Linked DNA regions of Homo sapiens. The protein of the gene in region 1 purifies or fractionates together with the protein of each later gene. This does not show direct contact. Each region holds a gene or a part of one and is shown in the gene's direction. Other genes may lie near its edges.

Region 1 (4,297 bases):
CTCCAGAGATTTTGTTCTTTTTACTTTATTTGACACAACCTGGAGGCAGACTATTGAGGGCTTGCACGGTGGCTCCATCATGCTGTCCGTTGTCCCAATTTTCCTGTTTCTTTTTTATCTTTTCTTAAATTATTGCACCAAACTTACTCTCCAGTAGGTGGCTTTCAAGAAATACTTCATATTTAAATGCCCATGCCCTCATATTTGCTTCTGCATTCACAGATGAAATTAAGTTTCTTCTTAAAAGTTTCAAATGCGTGATATCTTGTGGGTTAAACCACTGAAAAGAAAACATTAGACATCTGAGGTTGCCCTGGAAGAACCACAGTTCTAATTGCTTAATTCTGGGACAATTCTTCAGACAATTCAGATAAAAGGATGAAATAGCTACTATGTATACTCCCTGCAGATATAGCAAAGGACCCAAGCCCTTGTCAAATCCATGAAAGAACTTGCCTAGTAGTCTGCAGAGCTGGGTGCCTGGCATCTATTCCGTTTTGTGAGTTCTTATACTGCAAGGATGTTGCACACAGCCAGGATTATGTTATATACAGAGATGTGTGTGTGTGTGTGTGTGTGTGTGTGTGTGTGTGTGTGTGTGTGTGTCAGAGAGAGAGAGAGAAAGAGAGAGGTGTAAGGTCTGAATCACCACTAATTATACCTGCCTGCTCCTGAAAGCAGGACGTGCAGGAGTGGGAATGACAAGGATAGGGTGGATGTCATAGATACACAATGAAAGAGAGCATAGTGTAGATATTTTCCTCCAAATAAGCCACTAGATTTCTTCTTATCTGGCAAAGTAACTGCTAGGGAACATGTGAAAAACATAAGTAAAAAGAAACAAAAAGAGAAAAGAAGAGAAGAAACCAAGGATGAAAACAGCAGAAATGACATCCTCTGCAAATGCAGAGAAGGAGGGAGAACCTTGAATCACCTATAATTACCCCTGCCTGCTCCCAAGAGTTGTGGTTTTAAGTATCACCTGGCAATGAGGCACCCTAGCAGTAAGCTTTCTGGGGACTACAGAAGGACAGGAAGGTGCTGCCTAAAAGAAAGAAGACAATGTGCTGAATACTACCTTACAAAACATGGGAGACAAGTTTTGATGCTGTTCTAGAAACCAAACCATTGCCAGCAAAACTTCTGGCTGGCTTCTCTCCCAGTGCAAATGGCTTGAGCTTTCACAGTCACTGAGATTTCCTAGGCAACAGGAGTGTAAACTTGAGAAAAGGCAGAACCAGAGTAGAGATTGACAGTGAGCTGAGCCAATCAGGCTGTGAATCTGCAGCAGTGATCCCAGGTCCTCCAATTAATACTAAGAGAGTGGACCAGGGCCCCTGAGGAAGACAGGTAAGAGGGAGGAGGCTAAGGTGGCTTGGGAGGGACCAGTTTTCCTAGATGCAGGAGACAGCGTCCATAGTTTCAGTTCGAAGCAACTGGTGGCAAAAGGTTAGCATTTAAGGTAAATCAATGTTTTTATCTATTCTATGATTTAATGTTTTTTTTTTTCTTGGTATGTCTTAGCTGAGAAAAGAAGACAGTAGATGTTACTCTCTAAAAAGAAAATCTAAAAGTCTTTTGAGAGTTCTTGGACTAGAGAAGCCATCACTAGGCTGTCAGTGCAAGAGGAAAGAGCTTGGTACTGGGAAAGATTTTTGTAATCTTTGCAAAAAAAATGCTTAGATAAAAATGCACAAAAATAAATTTCATTCAGTAAAGGGGAAGGAAGTAAACATTACTGAGCAGTCATTAGGTACTAGGTATTTGAGTGTGAAGGGTTTGGGTGAATTGCTCTAACGATCCTGATGACCACTGATAAAACTGAGCTTCAGGGAGGTTCAGCATTTCCAAGTCACAAAGCAATAAAACATTTCAACTTTCATTCAGACCTTGCTTTGTCTGATACTTAAACTTATGCTATTTCTGCTATACACTGACAACTGAGAATCAGAATAAAAATCAGGATGCTTATTAAAGTGTACATACATGGCTTGTTCAAAATTATATCAAATAGTTGATTTGATTCATCAGAGACTTGAGGGGGTCCTTTACGTTCTCATTAAAGGACAACACCAATGACCCAGGCAGCCATCTCTATTGCCTTCAGTCTGGGGAGTATTTAAACCATATTAAGTAGATGAAATTCTTACCTGTTTTTTTTTTTTGACTTATTTTTTCCTCAAATCCTACAACCACAAAAATCTATTTTGTTATTGAAAGTTTTAAATATTGAGATTTGAATTTCAGGCATACATTTGTATTTATATTCTGATAAAAATTACCCAATAGCAATGACAATGATAAATTCTAATAGCAATAAAATAGCCTCCTGCTAAGCCCTGATGATATGGTGATAGTAAATGCAAAGGATACAGCTCTACCTCGTAAGGACCTTATAGTCTGTCTAGCAGGGCAAGTAATTCGAAAACGAATTACATTGTCTTGCAATGTGAATGCTATTTGGACTTCACCACATGATCATGGAAGGATGGGTGGGACTTCTCTGGGCCAACAGGAAAAAGAAGGTGTACCTGCAAGTGTGACTACATGTACAAAGGCACAGAGATACAGAATGCTATGGTGTGTTTGGGGAATGTGAGTGAGTAGAGATGCAGGATAGATTTTGAACGGATGGAGAATTACTAGAAATGGCTGGAGACATAGGAAAGGCCAATGCATGAATTCAATGCTAAGAACTTTCATTTTACCTGTATGCAATGGGGGACCATCAAAGGGTCTTAAACTATATCATGAAGTTCATGTTTTCATTTTCTAAAGATTGCTCAGTCTTTTGAAAGACAAAGTACAGAGGGCAAAGCTAGGGGCAGGAAACCAACTAGGAGACATTTGCAATGGTGGAAATGAGAAGTGACCATGTCCTAGGCTGAGTCAGTATCCATGGCAATGGAGATGAGGGAATGGAAATGCGGGATGTGTCAAGGTAGTGAAACTCTATAGGACTTAGCTGCTATTTGGATGTAAAGGGTTAGGAAGAGTCTAGGATAATGGTCAGTTAATGACCCAGGTAAATGGTATTGCTGTTTCCTGAAGCAAAGAGTAAGGAAGATAGGTAATGAATTTGGCTCTGGAACATTAAACTGAAAGTGTCTGTAGGTCATCCAAGTGCACATGTTTTGTGAGAAATCTGGCTCCAGAGAGTGCCTACATTGGAATAAAGATTTGTTAGTCATCATTGTATCAGGGGATATGACTGAGATTGCCATAAGATAGTGGAATAGTGAGAAGAGAAAGATAACTGAAGCCTGAGAAACAGCACTTAAGAAGCAGGTGAAGACAAGGAAGAAACAAAATAGGACAGATCCAAGAGGGAGGAGGAGAGACAGGGAGTTAGATTTATAGCCATTGAGAGAAAGGGTGTTAAAAAGGAAGAATGACCAATAGTCAACTAGTTGGAGAAGTGAACTAAGGGCTAATGACTGTTGAAGTTGGCAATCAGGTTAGCAATGACTTATTGAAGAGTATATTTGTTGGAATGACAGGGTGAAGACCATATTGAAATGGACCGAAGTATGAATGGGGCATGAGAAAGTAGAAAATCTGGAAATTCTTTAAAATAGTTTGACTTTGAGGGGTGATAGCTAGAGGGAGTCCAGGACTGAGGGACCACAGCGGATTCATGAACTAAAAGAAGGAGCTGCTGGAGAGGAGGAAAAGGGCATAACTGATGGCTGAGAATCTTAGAGGGGTAGGCCTCTGTGTTGCAGGTAGAGAGGGCATCCTTAGATGGGAGGAAGTTCAGCAATCTCTTGGAGGAGGGAGGAGGGAGGATGAAGTCAGGATGCCCTTAGAGCGCTATACTTTTATAGATTTGGAGGAGGATGATGTGAATTTGTTCATAACTGGTGGTTCCATTTTTTTCTGGGTCTTTCAAGGCAAGGTCTGGAGTGGCAAAAGTTTGGATTAGCCTCTGAGGAGACTGGAATAAGAACCTGACCAACATCATATAAAAGTTGAGTTGTGTGTTGCAGAAGGCCTAGCTGTGGTTAAAGAATAAATACAGTGACACCTGTCCATGCTGGCATGTGGGTTTATTCAGCTGCACTTCAGTCTGCCGTTAAGTACATGGAACATGGGCAAATTGAACCAAGTTAGCTATTATTCTGAGATGGTGGGAGGTTGAAAAATGAGGGTCAAGAAGGGAGGCACTGGTACCAGATGGTCAGAAAGATGCGCAGAGTGTGTAAAATGGATAAGAAAGGAAGTAGATCCAGAAGGGAGAATGAGGTAGGTAATGGCTGGGGTGAAAATGTAGGGCCAAAAGTCTGGAGGTACCATA
Region 2 (3,832 bases), on another chromosome or scaffold:
ACTTCCTCCTCCTCCTCCACCTTCTTATGATCCTGGTATTTGGAATATTGTTGACAGAAATGTTCATGTGGAAAGAAAATAATGATAGAGTTTTTATAAATTTTCACTTGTTAAGCTTAACTTACAATCATGGAGTGTTATGAGGCATAATCTTTAAAATTTGGTGTAAAATGGTGGTGGTAATCTAGTCATGTAGGCTTATAAAGACATTAATTTAGAACATGGAAGTGTATTATGTTTTTATTTTAATACTTTTATTTAAACAAGGCATTATAATATCATTTAAAAATTATTATAGTAACTATTAAATGTGAGTATTCCAGGAAATATTTTAACCATGCTCACTGCGGATTGAAATGTAGTCATTCAGCAGGAGTCATATAATTATGTTGCCTGGTTCCTTGGTATCTTCTCATCTGAGATTGATATAAAAAAAATCATAATTTTCCTAAAATGTATAATTCATGTGGCTCGACTACATTTATGGCTTAAATTTGTATATTGTTAAATTTTTTCTCATTGAGCAGATAAAAGTTGCTTGAGTCATTGTTACTAAAAGCAAAGCAAGATTTTTGCAACCTTGTATGAGATACTGAGATACCGAAAAACTTAAAGTGACAAAGTTGACACTTTGACATTCCTTATTAGAGCAGCCTAAAGAGGTTGTTAATGTAACAGGGTAGCCACATTAATGCTATGTTAGTACTCTAGATTGGGATTTATTTTCTAACAAAGAGAAAGTTCTTTAGCAAATCTAGATATGATCGTTTTTGACATTTTATTGTAGAGGAGAGATATAGTATATCTACAGATATAGTAAATATCTTAGATTTTATATGCCATAAGGTTTCTATTGCAACAAATAAGCCATAGACTATATATACATAATTATATATATATTTATATATAATTATATATGTTTATATAATAAATTATATATATTTATATAATAAATTATATATTTATATAATAAATTTTATATTTACATAATAAATTATATATATTTACGTAATAAATTATATATATTTACATAATACATTATATATATTTACGTAATACATTATATATATATTTACGTAATACATTATATATATTTACGTAATACATTATATATATTTACGTAATACATTATATATATATTTACGTAATACATTATATATATTTATGTAATACATTATATATATTTACGTAAGACATTATATATATATTTACGTAATACATTATATATATTCATGTAATAAATATATATATTCATGTAATAAATTATATATATATTTATATAATATATATCTATATAATAAATATATATTTATATAATAAATTATATATATTTATATAAATATATAATTATTTATATCTATATTTTTATATATAAACTATATCTATATTTATATATAAATATATATAAATTATATATATATAAATATAAAATGAGCATGGCTGTGTTTCCGTAAAACTTCATTTACAAAGACAGGCAACAGGCAGGCTGGATTTGGCCCATGGGCCATACTTTGCGAAACCCTGTTCTAGAGTATTAATAATTAACTTATATGAATGAATGTTTCTGGTATGCTTTAACTGATCCTGGGCCTCTTTTAATACTACCTTTTATTTTCTTCATGAACTTGAGTTTTCTCTCTGCTTTGAAGATATTTAGATATTGTGTCTTAACTCTACATAGCTACATTTCTCATGTCTAATATAAGAGAGTGAGAGGGTACCAGTTCTTCAGGATCGTTTGGGCTTTAGAAGTTTTTTTAATCTTTTGGGCCTGACAAAAACAGCTTATTTCTTTCTTATGAGAGGTTTAAGACCTACTCCAGTAGTAAGGAGGACAAATTTTTGAGCTCAGATGAATATAAATTGAAAAGGGCAAACTCTGTATCAAAAAAGTAAACCTGTTAAAATAAGTTGTAAACCTGTTAAATTAAGATTCTTTTTTGACACTACCAGATTTTTACATTTATTCCCAGTGTCTCATTTAGTTATTTTACAATGCTACAAAATATGGTTCTGGAATAATTTCAAAAGAAGTTTAATTTACAGTATGCTTTGCATTTTGGGAAGATATTTTATCTTGGAAACATTTGCTGTTTCTTAAATTTGAATTATGTCAGTGAGATATATTTTAATCACTTCTTCCATCTGTTGGGACTTTTAAGAGAAAATAGCACTTTAAAGATAAGTAAACTATTTCTTGACAGTTTTCCATTTGATGAAATAAAAAATTTTAATAGATGAGCCTGTATTTTAAAATGTATTTTAACGTCATGTATTATTACTTCCTAACTAGTCTGCTATATAAAGTATGTATCCATTATAAATGAAAACATAAAGGCAAAAAAGAAATAACGTTTTTCCTCTGCTTACTCTTTTGTACTAAGGATTTATCTTTTGTTTTTTTTCCTTCACACATTTGATTCAAAGCTAGAAGAAAATTGGAAGTCATGTACCAGCAGACTTTTTTTTTTTTTAACTCTTTACTAAGTTTAGACAAGTAAAACTGGGTAGTTATAAGGATATGGGAATTTTTGCTTATCAGATGTTATTACTTATATTTTTTGAATGACTGCATAGAAACTTAAGATTTTTTAATGTCCGTTTCAAGTACTATGCTATTAATCTGTTTCCGTTTTTATCTGTTATAGATTATATTCAATGTCCATATTGTCAGAGGAGATTCAATGAAAATGCAGCTGATAGACATATAAATTTCTGTAAAGAACAGGCAGCACGTATTAGTAATAAAGGGAAATTTTCTACAGATACCAAAGGAAAACCAACTTCTCGGACACAGGTGGTAAGTTCAGTTTTAATAATTGCTATAAACGAGAAAATGGCTCATGGACATTCATAGATTATTGTTTATGCTTTTCATGACATTAGACTATATTTTTCTCACCTGCTTTTATAGATATATAGTTTTATATATCTATAAAAGTTGTATGCTTTTAGCTCTTATATCTGTAAATCATTTCAAGCTAATTGTGTATAGTGTGAAGGGGCAATTGTTCCCTTTTTCTATGTGGATATTCTATTGTCTTAGCACGTTTTGTATATATAAAATATATAAAAACATTATATATATGTATACATGTTTTTAGATTATCGAGTGAAAGACCTTGTTACATATTCTTGGTCTTTTCTCAGATGTATATTAAGAATATTTTCTCCCATCCTGTGACTTGGCTTTCCATTTTCTTAAGGATGTCTTTTGAGGGGCAAAAATTTTAAAATGTGATTAAGTCCAATTTATTAATTCTTTATGATTTATGCTCCTTATCTTGTATCAAAGAAATCTTTGCCTATACTAGGATTGCAAAGATTTTTCTCCCATGTCTTCTATAAGTTTTATGCTTTTAGCTCTTACATCTGTAAATCACTTCAGGCTGGTATTTGTGTATAGTGTGAAGTAAGGGGCAGTTTTTCCTTTTGTTTTCTATGTGGATATTCTATTGTTTTAGCACGATTTGTTTAAAGGACTTTTCTTTCCCTGATGAATTGCTGAGGCACCTTGGTTGGAAATCAGATGAATATAAATGTATGGGTTTATTTCAGGACATGCTGTTCTGTTCCATTGATTTATATCCCTGTCCTTTAGTCAATACCGCATTATCACTATACTGAATAGTGAACCTTAATAAGCCTTAAAATCAAGTAGTCTAAATTTTCCTACTTGAATTCCTTTTAAAATTTTCTTTGGCAGCCGGGTGCAGTGGCTCCCGCCTTTAATCCCAGCACTTTGGGAGGCCAAGGCGGGCAGATCACGATTGTCAGGAGATAAAGACCATCCTGGCTAACACGGTGAAACCCCGTCTCTAATAAAAATACA

The links.
Region 2: the proteins of CAPSL (region 1) and ZC2HC1A purify together in Homo sapiens (co-immunoprecipitation; one large-scale study listed by IntAct). This does not show direct contact.

The regions. Positions count from the first base shown.
Region 1 is NC_000005.10:35,935,706-35,940,002, reverse strand, and holds the start of CAPSL (calcyphosin-like protein), read left to right. Parts: upstream 1-1,380; 5' UTR 1,381-1,398; coding exon of another isoform or gene 1,399-1,449; 5' UTR 1,450-1,462; intron 1,463-4,297.
Region 2 is NC_000008.11:78,686,574-78,690,405, forward strand, and holds part of ZC2HC1A (zinc finger C2HC domain-containing protein 1A), read left to right. Parts: coding exon 1-35; intron 36-2,648; coding exon 2,649-2,800; intron 2,801-3,832.